Homo sapiens: one gene and its partners. The protein of the gene in region 3 interacts with the protein of the main gene of each other region in a pairwise test. Each region holds a gene or a part of one and is shown on either strand. Other genes may lie near its edges.

What was found.
Region 1: the proteins of RAB33B (region 3) and RUFY2 interact in binary tests that used the Homo sapiens proteins (3 or more experiments, as listed by UniProt).
Region 2: the proteins of RAB33B (region 3) and USP6 interact in a two-hybrid assay, tested with the Homo sapiens proteins (one study listed by BioGRID).

What each region holds. Positions count from the first base shown.
Region 1 is NC_000010.11:68,405,815-68,409,414, forward strand, and holds the start of RUFY2 (RUN and FYVE domain-containing protein 2), read right to left. Parts: upstream 1,464-3,600; 5' UTR 1,376-1,463; coding exon 1,372-1,375; exon of another isoform or gene 1,049-1,371; coding exon of another isoform or gene 940-1,048; exon of another isoform or gene 11-939; coding exon of another isoform or gene 7-10; intron 1-6.
Region 2 is NC_000017.11:5,167,997-5,171,820, reverse strand, and holds part of USP6 (ubiquitin carboxyl-terminal hydrolase 6), read right to left. Parts: coding exon 3,698-3,824; intron 3,055-3,697; coding exon 2,766-3,054; intron 1,343-2,765; coding exon 906-1,342; intron 235-905; coding exon 142-234; intron 1-141. UniProt on the Homo sapiens protein: Deubiquitinase with an ATP-independent isopeptidase activity, cleaving at the C-terminus of the ubiquitin moiety. Catalyzes its own deubiquitination. In vitro, isoform 2, but not isoform 3, shows deubiquitinating activity.
Region 3 is NC_000004.12:139,452,134-139,455,957, reverse strand, and holds the start of RAB33B (ras-related protein Rab-33B), read right to left. Parts: upstream 1,838-3,824; 5' UTR 1,782-1,837; coding exon of another isoform or gene 1,763-1,781; coding exon 1,514-1,762; intron 1-1,513. UniProt on the Homo sapiens protein: The small GTPases Rab are key regulators of intracellular membrane trafficking, from the formation of transport vesicles to their fusion with membranes.

The DNA of each region.
Region 1 (3,600 bases), on a different chromosome or scaffold from region 3:
CCTCACCCATCCACACAGTTGAGGATGCCCACAGCGCCAGTCTGAATACCAAGTTAATAGATGCAAATTCTAAAAGGCCTGATTTTTAATTGATATTTTTAAGACACAGTATCATCAAGTAAGATATTTTCAATTCACAAAAATATTGTCCTCCTTCCCGCAAATTTTATTCTCAGTTTACTTAGAAATTCAGACGCTTCCCCATCATCTCATCACTGTTGTGACTGGTGGGAATACCTTCAACAAACACAGATGACAAAACTAAGGTGTGGAAAAACGAAGCACTTAGTATAACATTTCATAATCTCTGACAAATTTACAAGTAATCAATGTGCCCGTTTTTCCTTCACTGAACAACAACAACAACAAAAAACCCAGAGTCTCCAATGATCTAGTATTCCAGCTCCGATTTCTAGATAGCTAGGCATGAAGCCTGACACTGAATCCTAAGCAACCTAAAATGCAAACAGCCACAACTGCTATGGCCAAACTGCCTGGTGGAAAAATGTCCACACACGAATTCCTTCAAATCTGCATCGTGGTCTGACTCCCACTATTTTTCGGGAGTGAAACCACTTCATGTTTCATAATCCGTGGCAACTCTCATTTTTAACACAGCCCATCATAATTCCTAACGTGCGATGCGACAACCACACAAAGGGTGTTTTGCAGCTGCTGGGAGGCAGATCGGTGCTGGGCACCGGCAGTTCCCACGCCGAGGGGCGTTCACACCGCGGCCACGCCCCGGCTGCGCTACAGGACTTCTCCGGCCCGTACGCGACCCCCAAACCCGGCCGCAGGCGCGCAAGGAGTACCAGGGCCAGTGCCCGCACCTTGCCGGGGCCTAGAGCCCCTTCCCTGCCTCTCTTCCTGCCCCCTCCCCCCAGCAAGGCTGCCCAGAGGCCTGGGGGCCCCCCAGGACCATCGCGGCGGGCTCACCCAGGCTCCTGCGCGTCAGCATTCCCCGTCTCCCGCCCTCGGCGTCAGGCACCCAGGCCAAAACCTGAGATGCGTCTTCCCTCCGCCACCCCCAAACCTGAAAAGTCATCGCCCCTCCCCGCCTGCTCCCCGACCCGGGAGTGACACCCTGCCTGGCCCTGTCCTCGCTCCTGGACGCCGTGGCACCTCGAGCCCTCGGCCACTATGCCTCAGAACCCGGGCGGGAACGGGCCGGAACAAGGGAGGGGGCGCGTTGCCATGACGACCCCGGGAGCCCCCGAGTCCCAGGCAGTCCCCGCCCATCCTGGGTTCGGGCCCCAGTTCCGACTGGCGGCCTCGGCGTCTCCCCCAGCTCCCAGTCCACCCCGCCTGGCCGCGGCCCTCAGCCCGGGACTGAGGGCCTAGCGTTCGGTTTCGGCCCGCTCGCCTTACCCATGGCGGCGGCGGCTGCGCGGTCTCGGGCGGAGGCTCCCTCGGCCTGTCCAGCAGCTCCTTCCAGGCGCTCGGCGGCCACCACCGCATCTGCAGCCAGGCCCGCTGCAGCCCACAGCGCCCCCGGCGGCGGGAGGGCGCCCGGGCGGCCCCAGGGGGAGCGGCGCCCCGGGCGGGGCGGGGACCCGCGGACCCTGCGGCGGGCGGGAGAGAAGCCCGCCGTCTCTAAGCCTCCTCGCATCCGCTGGGACCGCGAGGAGAAGGAAAGGAACGTGAAGGAGACCACATGTGTGAGGAGCCAGAGTGCTGGGCCCTCGGTCCCGTGTCCCGGGGGCTTCGCTGGAGCGCGAAGGCCGGATTTCAAGGGGCGGCCGGCCACACGCAAACGTTGCTTCCACCGGGCTGGTGGGGCCTGATCTAACACGCCTGACTACTGCCCATTCACCTTCACAAACACAAAGGGGACCAAAAGAATTTAGAAAATCTGAAGCAATTAACAGTAGGCAGAAACCTAATAAAACTAGTTAGTCCCAAATTACGACTTTTTTTTGTTTTTTGGGTTGTTTTTTTTTTTTTTTTTTTGAGATGGAGTCTCGCTCTGTCACCAGGCTGGAGTGCAGTGGCGTGATCTTGGCTCACTGCAAACTCTGCCTCCCGGGTTCAAGGGATTCTCCTGCCTCAGCCTCCTGAGTAGCTGGGATGACAGGCGCGCGCCACCCCGCCCGGCTAATTTTTGTATTTTTAGTAAAGACGGGGTTTCACCATGTTGGCCAGGGTGGTCTCGATCTCTTCACCTGGTGATCCGCCCATCTCGACCTCCCAAAGTGCTAGGATAACGCCTGAGCCACACAGCCCGCCCTAAAACAATTTGGTAAAGCTCATTACAAAAAGCTAAAGTGAAAAAAGAGAGAAAACAATTCAAAAATATTTCATTATGTGCCACAGCAATATCCACACAAGCACTAAAATTCAGACCTCGGCTGGGTATGGTGGCTCATGCCTGTAATCCCAGCACTTTGAGAGGCTGAGCTGGATAGATCACGAGGTCAGGAGTTCGAGACCAGCCTGACCAACATGGTGAAACTCCGTCTCTACTAAAAATACAAAATTTAGGCAGACGTAGTGGCATGTTCCTGTAGTCCCAGCTACTCGGGAGGCCAAGGCGGGCGGATCACCCGGTCAGAAGTTCGAGACCAGTCTGGCTAACATGGTGAAACCTCATATCTACTAAAAATACAAAAATTAGCCGGGCGTGGTGGCGCGTGCCTGTAATCCCAAGATTCCGTCTCAAAAAAAAAAAAAAAAAAGTCAGACTTCATCCCTGGATCCATCTTGGTTCACATTTCCCAGGATTATGAGCCCTAGTCATCGTAAGGGCCAGTAGTGACTCAAGTGGAATTAGATAGGCATATCCTATTAGCTAGAAGAGATTTTTTATTTTTTTCAGACAGGGTCTCACTCTGTCACTCATGCTGGAGTGCAGTGGCGCGATCTCAGCTCACTGCAACCTCTGCCTCCCAGGCTCAAGTGATCCTCCCACCTCAGCCTCCCTAGTAGCTGGGACCACAGGCGCTCATTGCCACACCCAGCTAACATTTGTATTTTTGTGCTTAATTTTTTAAAAAAAGTTACATATATATGACATATACTTATGATCCCAGTTTTAGTTTATCAATAAATACAGCAATATGAAGGTATATCTATATATCTATATATAGATATATATACATAGTTAGAAAAATAAATGCATAGGTAAGAGACTGAGTAAAGTACATGAAAATGTTAATAGTTATGATGTGTGGGTGGGGGCATTGTGATTACTTTTTTCCCTAAACTATTGTGTGTGTGTGTGTGTGTGTGTTTGTTTAGGCTTTTATTTTAGGTTTGAGGGTACATGTGAAGGTTGGTTGCATAGGTGAACTCATGTCATGGGGGTTTGTTGTACAGATTATTTCATCACCCAGTTAAGTCCAGTATCCGATGGTTATCTTTTCTGCTCCTCTCCCTCCTCCCATCCTCCACCTTCAAGTAGACTCCAGTGTCTGTTGTTCCCTTCTTTTTTTTTTTCTTTTTTTAAGACAGGGTTTCACCATGTTGGCCAGGATGGTCTCGAACTCCTCAGCTCAAGTGATCTATCTTCCTCAGCCTCCCAAAGTGTTGGGATTACAGGCATGAGCAACTGCACCTGGTCTTGCTTTTCCCTTCTTTGTGTTCATGAGTTATCATTTA
Region 2 (3,824 bases), on a different chromosome or scaffold from region 3:
TTCCTTTAATACTGACAGCATCTATATATTAATTCTAACAGAAATATCTATTTCCTATTCAAGAGATAGTCCATTATTTCAACAAATGTTCCCCAGTTCTGTTGATATTCTAACTTTCATTCAAAGATTGAGAATGTTTACCTCACAGCTGCTGTCATTATAACAGTACCACTTGCAGTTTGGGTTTTTGGCATAAGTGATGTAATGGCCCCCACTCAGAATTCCTGAATGGCACTGTAAGAGATAAGAGAGTGGAGGTATGTTAGTAGTTAACTGTACTATGGCCAGGGTATAGCACTAAGATCTGAGCAGGAGAACACTGATCATGTAAATGATCAATAGGTGAGAAAATATTTTAGAACCCTCTTTCTCTAAAACCAAAATAAGCAAAAAGCAAAATACAAAAGTCATAAGCTCCAAGTCTTGTGTGGATAAACAATCATTTTATAATTGTAATTACTATTATTATTATTATTATTTTGAGACAGGGGCTTGCTCTATCACCCAGGCTGGGGTGCAGTCGAGTGATCACAACTCTCTAAAGACTTGACCTTCTGGGCTCAGGTGATCCTTCTGCCTCAGCCTTTCAAGTAGCTGGGACCACAGGCACATGCCACCATACCTCGCTCCATTTTAAAATTATTTGTAGAGACGGGGCCCAAGCAGCTGGTCTCAAACTCCTGGGCTCAAGCGATCCTCCTGTCTCAGCCTTCTAAAGTGCTGGGATTACAGGTGTGAGCCACCACACCACATCTGTGAGCCCAGATTTCAATGTTAACTTTGTCTATCACTAAGCTCAATGCTAGGAAATTAGCAGGACCTGAAAAATACTTGCTGATGAATACATGAAGACAAGTGAACAAAACACAGACCACTCTCTGAAAACCGTATAATAAACCACTTACTGAAATTGCATATAGATTATAAATAGGCTTAATATGAGTGTCTTCTCTTTGGTCATCAGTGCTGTCTTCTTCACTGTGGTTTCCAAGCTGACCATTGCTGTAGCCATCGCCACAGCCATTGCCACATGCTTCATGCTCATAAAGGAATCCATTGGCCAAAGCTACCTCATGGTCCTGAGGAGTGACCAGCTCTGGTTGGCTGCCCCCCCGCATATGCCCTCGGCTCAAGGCGTCAGCCAGCTCACAGATCTGCCCAGCCCCATTCTCTTTGCTGGCATCCAAGTTCTTCTTACTACTTGACGGCTTATTTTTGCTGCCAATCTGGGGCAGCCGGAGCCTCCCTTTGCTCCTCCCCAAAGTCCGTGGGCTGCTATTAGGGCTGCTGTTTTTGCTGGAGGGACAGCTGGTTCCACTTTTTCTTGATGAAGAAGGAGAACCTGTGAACAGGACAGAAGAAAAGATTCACAAATCCAAATGCCAGAAAGTAAGCCAGCCCCAAATGCTAACTCCGAGGTTAGCTTTGCAACTGTACACACAAAGGTAAAGACAGGGGAGTCATGACTGGCTACCCTTTGGTTCCTATTGTGTAGCCAGTAAGTTACATTTTTGTCTTCTTCAATGCCAAGTCCCTATAAGCAACAATGTCCTGAAAATGTAAAGTGCATTATAGGGACTCAGAAAACAGCAGAAAGATGATTATGATTTATGATGATTCAGTTGAAAAAAATCCAACTATTAGAGTAAGGAGTTTTCCAAATACATATTCCTCTCCTTTGTAAAATTAGACAAAAAATGTGACCACCATTTACTGAGTACTTCCTATTGTTAGGCATGGTACTGGGAATTTCCTGCTGTCCGTTGTTACCTCTGTGTCTCACAAAAATCCTGCAAGGCTTTAAACCTTTTAGTTATAGCCTCTTACCCCTACCCCCTTTTATACCTTTAAAAATTATTGAGAACCTTTAGAACTTTTATGTGAATTTTATCTATCAATATTTCCTGTATTAGAAATTAAAACTGAGGAATGAAAAAGTACAATACATTAGCACAGACTTCACTGTCAAAGTGACGATATTATTCCATGTCATGTTTTCTCTTACACCATTGTACATCTGTGAGAGAAAAAAAGTGAAAAAGCACATATTTTCTCAGTATTTTTATGAAAATCATTTTGGGCCAGGCACAGTGGCTCACACCTGTAATCCCAGCACTTTAGGAGGCCGAAGCAGGAGGTTCACTTGGGTGCAGGAGTTCGAGCCCAGCCTGGGAAACATGGCGAAGCACCATCTCTACAAAAAATACAAAAATTAGCCAGGTGCAGTGGTGCATGCCTGTAGTCCCAGCTACTCAGGAAGCTGAGGTGGGAGGATTGATTGACCCCAGGAGGTCCAGGCTGCAGTGAGCTGTGATCTGTGTTGCACCACTGCACTCCAGCCTGGGTGACAGAGTGAGACCCTGTCTCAAAAAAACAAAAAATAAAATAAATAAATAAAAAAGGAGTTTTGATCCTCTAGACCCCCTGAAAGATGGGGAACCTCAGAACTTTCACTATAAGGGGACAAGACAGCAGCTACCATTCCTGTTTACCATACATCAGGCACTGTGTGAAGTGCTTTACTCTCCATGTGTCAAACTCTCAACTCTGTAAACCTGGCATTATCTCCATTTTACAGATGAGGAAATAGATTCAGGGAGGCTGAATCTCTTGCTACAACTTACATAGCTCAAATACAGATAGGTCTGATTCCAGATAGGTTCCTTCCACCCAACCAACCTGATGTTCCAGAACAGAAGACAGAGAAACATATGTAGCCTACAGGAGTCCCAAGAAAGCAACTGCATAAGGCCCCCAGGCCTCACCTTTTGGGCTGCTGCTGATGTTAGCGCTGAGTGAGGATGGGCTTTTGCTTAGGAGCATGTCCTCTTTTCCAGCCGAACTCTGCGCATCCACTTTCTTCACCTCTCTTGCCAGAATCCTGGGCTTGGAGAGCTCATCCCCCTGGGGTGTGAGTGGTTTATGCTGGCAGAGGGCCGGGTCTCGTGGTACCAAAAAAGCACTCGGATCAAAACTTTCCCGAAGAAATCTGACAATTTTCTGTGATTTTATCCACTGATCATTTACAAATTGAAATCGCTTAAGGTGAATAATCTGGAGAAGTAAAGGTAGAAAACATCGCATTAAAGGGTTCTGAAGATACAAAATTTACATGGAAAAAACAAGTCAAATACATGTGAATGTTTGGAAATATATAACAGAACATTTACTCTTCATTATTTTTTAAAGACTTCAAAAATATGGTTTCATAAAGGCCTCTACACAGGCCCTAGTGCACTGGCGTCCTTGTGCACACGCGCTCAACTCAGCAGTGTGGCCACAGCCACGTGACTATGTGCAGTGGGTATTGCCCCCGGGCTCAGTTGCTCTTCTAGAGTCCACAAAGGGCTAGCCTAAGCTTCCTCTCTCCACAGAGCCAGAAGTTCACCCTCTCCTGAAGTTCACATTCACCACGTTGTACCCCTTGTGGCAGTTCTCACATCGCACTGAATTGCAGTTACTGGGCTACATGATTGATCTCTTCTTCTAGGTTATGAGCTTTTTAGGAAAAGGAACTACCAAATATTTGTAGAAAGATTCATCTCTGTATTCAACATAAAAACCTTGTACAGAATGTGTTTTAAACACTGCTGCAGGAAAAGTCTTATTCTCAAAAATAACAAAACCTCCTGTTTGTTCATGTCTTCTTTCTTTTATGCTAGATTCCTGCTCTCTCAGAGGCAGGACCGTAACATACCAGGAAGGGTGGAAGCCTCCAGAGATCCAGCTTCTTTGTTGCTAAGCAGTGGGTCTTACACTTGGAACAGTAGTACATCTCACTTTCCCCTAGCTCTTCCTCACTGGTGAAAGCACGGAGACAGCTG
Region 3 (3,824 bases):
GGATGTGAGACCCAGTTTTAAAACCTGGACAGTCTTGGGCAAAGTTGGTCACCCTAGTAAGGACACGCAGCCCATCCCTACCCTTTCGTAGGTTCAGATATGAATCCAGGTTAGTTGGGCTCCAAAGCCCACGTACTTCCCAGATTCCTGCTTCTCCCAATCTTAACTCCCTTGGAACTTCAGAAGCTCCATTATTTTTCACCCCAAAGGCTTCTGGGCCAAACCTAATTCTGGTGAAAAATGTTTAGCCTTTTATTCTATCTTTTCTTCTGCAAGTATACAAATCTTTCTAAATTCCCTAATACAAAGCAACTCCAAAACCACCACTGAGAGCTCATATGGGACATGAAATACTAATGTGAAAAATTAAAAGACAGAAGCACCAAAGAAAGGTTAATTTCTTTTAACCCAGCTTACTTCACCTCTACCATCATTAGCAGTATAACCCGTTGGGGTGGGGGGCGATGATTAGGGAACTGAAAAATAAATTGTTCTTGCCTCTAAGATACGAGGGTAGGAACGTCTAAAGCAAGCCTGTTCTCCCACCACTCCCCATCCCCACCAAGAGACTGAGATAAAGACGATCGCTGATTTAAAGCAGTAGTATAAGGCAAGGTGGTTCCACCTATGTTTTAAGGAGTGGCATCAACAGGTGGCATTTAGTGGTGGCTTGCTATGAAGGTGTGTCTAAGGTTTATACCATCAAGAGGCCTAAGCCTTGTCATTGATCCTCATTCCACTGTTAGATTCCAACCCCTCAGAACTTCAAACCTGCCCTGGGGCCTATACTACCTTCTCCACTATTACTGTCACTCAGTGTCCCCAGTCCCAGGGACCAAAAATAACGACTTAAAGGGAATAAAGAATTGGGCGTGTGTCTGAGGTGGCATCATGAGAAATGCTTTTGGCAACCTGAGTAGGAACTATCACATATAGAATGTTTCTGCAGGAAAATAGATTTTTCTAAAATCAGTATCATAAAGAAACTACTACAGCAAAACTGTATGCAAGAGAATACCTAAGTACTTCCTCAAAGGCAATAGGCTTTACTTCCACAACATCTAAGGCACTGCTCGAATGAATGTTTAATAACTATTACTGATTAAATGAATTTTCCATTCTCGCGCAATTTCACTGTTTTTCCTCCGTTCATATTTGACTGACTCCCAGCACACGACACACACAGTAAATGGGTCGGTAGATAAGCCCTACACTCCTGAACTCAAAGTGTGGTCCACGGACTAGCTGCACCTGCATCATCAGCGAGATTATTAAATCATAGCCTGCATTTTCAAAAACAAGATCCCCAGGTAAATCGCATGCACAATGAAGTCTGAGAAACGCTGCCTTAGAAGTTTGCAGTATTGCAATCCTTCCAATCCCCAACTCCAATCTCATCAGCGTGAGAAAAAAATGGAGCGCACACACACCGTGCACACGGCCAGCGACCAGCCCACGGTGGGGTTGGGACACCTGTCACCCTGTCCTCCCCAACAGTTCCCCATCCGCTCACCTTGATGCGCTCCCCATCAATCTCCACCGCTCGTTCTCGGAAATCCACCCCTATCGTGGCCTCGGTGCGGTCGGGGAAGCGGCCAGCGCAGAAGCGGTAGGTCAGGCATGTCTTGCCCACATTGGAGTCGCCGATCACGATTATCTTGAAGATGCGGGAGCGGGCAGGAGGCAAAAACCCTGAGGCCCCTGACACTGCCCCGCTGGACGAAAAGCTTGCCTCGAGCGACGACTCCATCTCCTCAGCCATTCCCCCGACCCGCCCCAAACTGAGGCGGAGGAAAGGAGACACAGAAAGGCTGAGAGATTACGCCACCGCAAGAGCGCGCGCCCAGCCGGCCAGTTCGGCTGCGCAACTTCCCAGGAGCCACCGCCCACCAGCCCCGAGCGCGCCTGCGCACCTTCCCGCCCCGCCCTTGCCCGCACAGGTGTGGCACCCGCCCGCCCCGCCGCACGGAGCCGCCTGCCCGCGGCCACACGCCAGGCGTCACTCGGGCTGGCGCCGGTCTACCTAGGCAGGCGTGGGACCTGTCGGGGGCTTCACGGCAGCGCGGAAGGCCAGCCTGCAGAGAGGCTGGGCCCAGCGCCCTGACTGACCCAGCCCCGCCACGTCCAAGGTTCCCGCCCTCTGGAGGAAGCCGCGCAATCACTCCGGGGGCGGGGAGAGACAGACAACTGAGAGGAAGGAGGTACCACGGGCACTCTCTCGCGAGAGGGCCGCAGAGCCGCCTTTGACGGGGGCGTGTACCTGGAGAGCAACGGTAAGGACGGAGCCGACGGCTCCGGCGTCGGGTCGGTTCCGGCATCGACGTATCGTTTGGTCGCCCCAGAGAGGAGACAGGTTTCTTCAGCTTGCCGCTGAGGATGTGGCATCGGCTGCGCTCACCGCCGCCGCCTCTGTGAACTGCGGGAGTTGGGACAGCGGCCAGGGCTAGATGGGTGGGACGCGAGTCCTCGCCGAAAGCTTGCCCTGTGCGGGGCGCACTTGGAGGCGAGCTCTGGGCCGTGGCGAGTTTTGCAGCCTAAGGTCTTGGCAGGCGCATTGCTGTGGGCTGCCGGAGAGCAGGCTGGAGTTCGAGACCGCCCACCGGAGAGCAGGCGAGAGTTCGAGGCCTAGGTACAGCGCATTTCGCTAGGCATCCCCAAGAATATCCGCGTGATCCTTGTGGCCAGAGTTTGTTGAGCTAATATCCCCAGCCCAAACAGTAGAGCACATCACATGTCGGCCACCTGGGAGCGTTGAACCTGGTAGTTACTAGGCGCCCCTGGTGGAAATAAAACTCATTATGCCCTAGTTATGTCTTAGTGCCTGGGTGACGATGATGTAGCGGTTAAAGATTAACTGAGCGCACTTAGAGGTTGTCTTTGTCTACCTAAGGAAAATATCAATAGATTAAACCCCCAACCTTAAAGAATCTCCGTGAATTTTTCTGAGGAAACGTGCAATATTGTCATACAAAAGGCCCCAAATATGCAAACATTGCTTTTTGTTAAAAGTTTGTTTTGTTTTGCAGTGACATCTGTTTGAGCAGATGAATATGCCATTGGGAAAGTCAAGGACTGTCGGAGAGGAGGACATGGCAGACCTTAACTAAAGTGAGGGGGACAGTAGAGCACTAAAAGTTCTAGGAAAGGAGATGAACTGCTTATTCCATCAGATGAAAATATAGTCAGAACAGATGAGTAGTAGAACTTAAACATGCCCGGAGTTGCCAGGAATTTGCAAAAGCCTTGATATAATTCCTGTTGCTGTAGAAAGACTTTCTACAGTCACTAATATATCAAGTTATGTTCACTAGAAAAAAAGTTTACTTAGTTTATAGAAATGGGCTGAAAAATCCTAATTACTTATCTGTGAGGTTATTTTCATGAAGGTTAATCATCCAGAAACTATTAGAGAGCCTCGGAATATATTTCTTCTAATCTGCTCTACCTATCCCATTCAAAGGAGGGAATCTGAAGATTTAAGGACAAAGAGCAGTTGAAAACTCAGAGCTGTGGTTAATGGGAGAATTTCAAGGATGGTGAAAAAAACTAACATCATTGCATCCCTGTTTTTTGTATTCTGGACTTTTTAGTTTAGCTCTTGGTAAACTACATCAGAAATTCTTTATGCTAACTCTAACACACATTTTGGGGTATTGCTAATTTAATCTTTGAATACTGTTTTTGCTGTTTCATGATTATATGTTATGTCCTACCAGCTAGATTGCCAACTCTTGACTACTGACTGGAAGTTTATTGTTTATTCAGCAAATAATGAATTAAGTCAGTGAAGTGAGAGATTTCGTGTGTAAGGATTGTTAACTTGA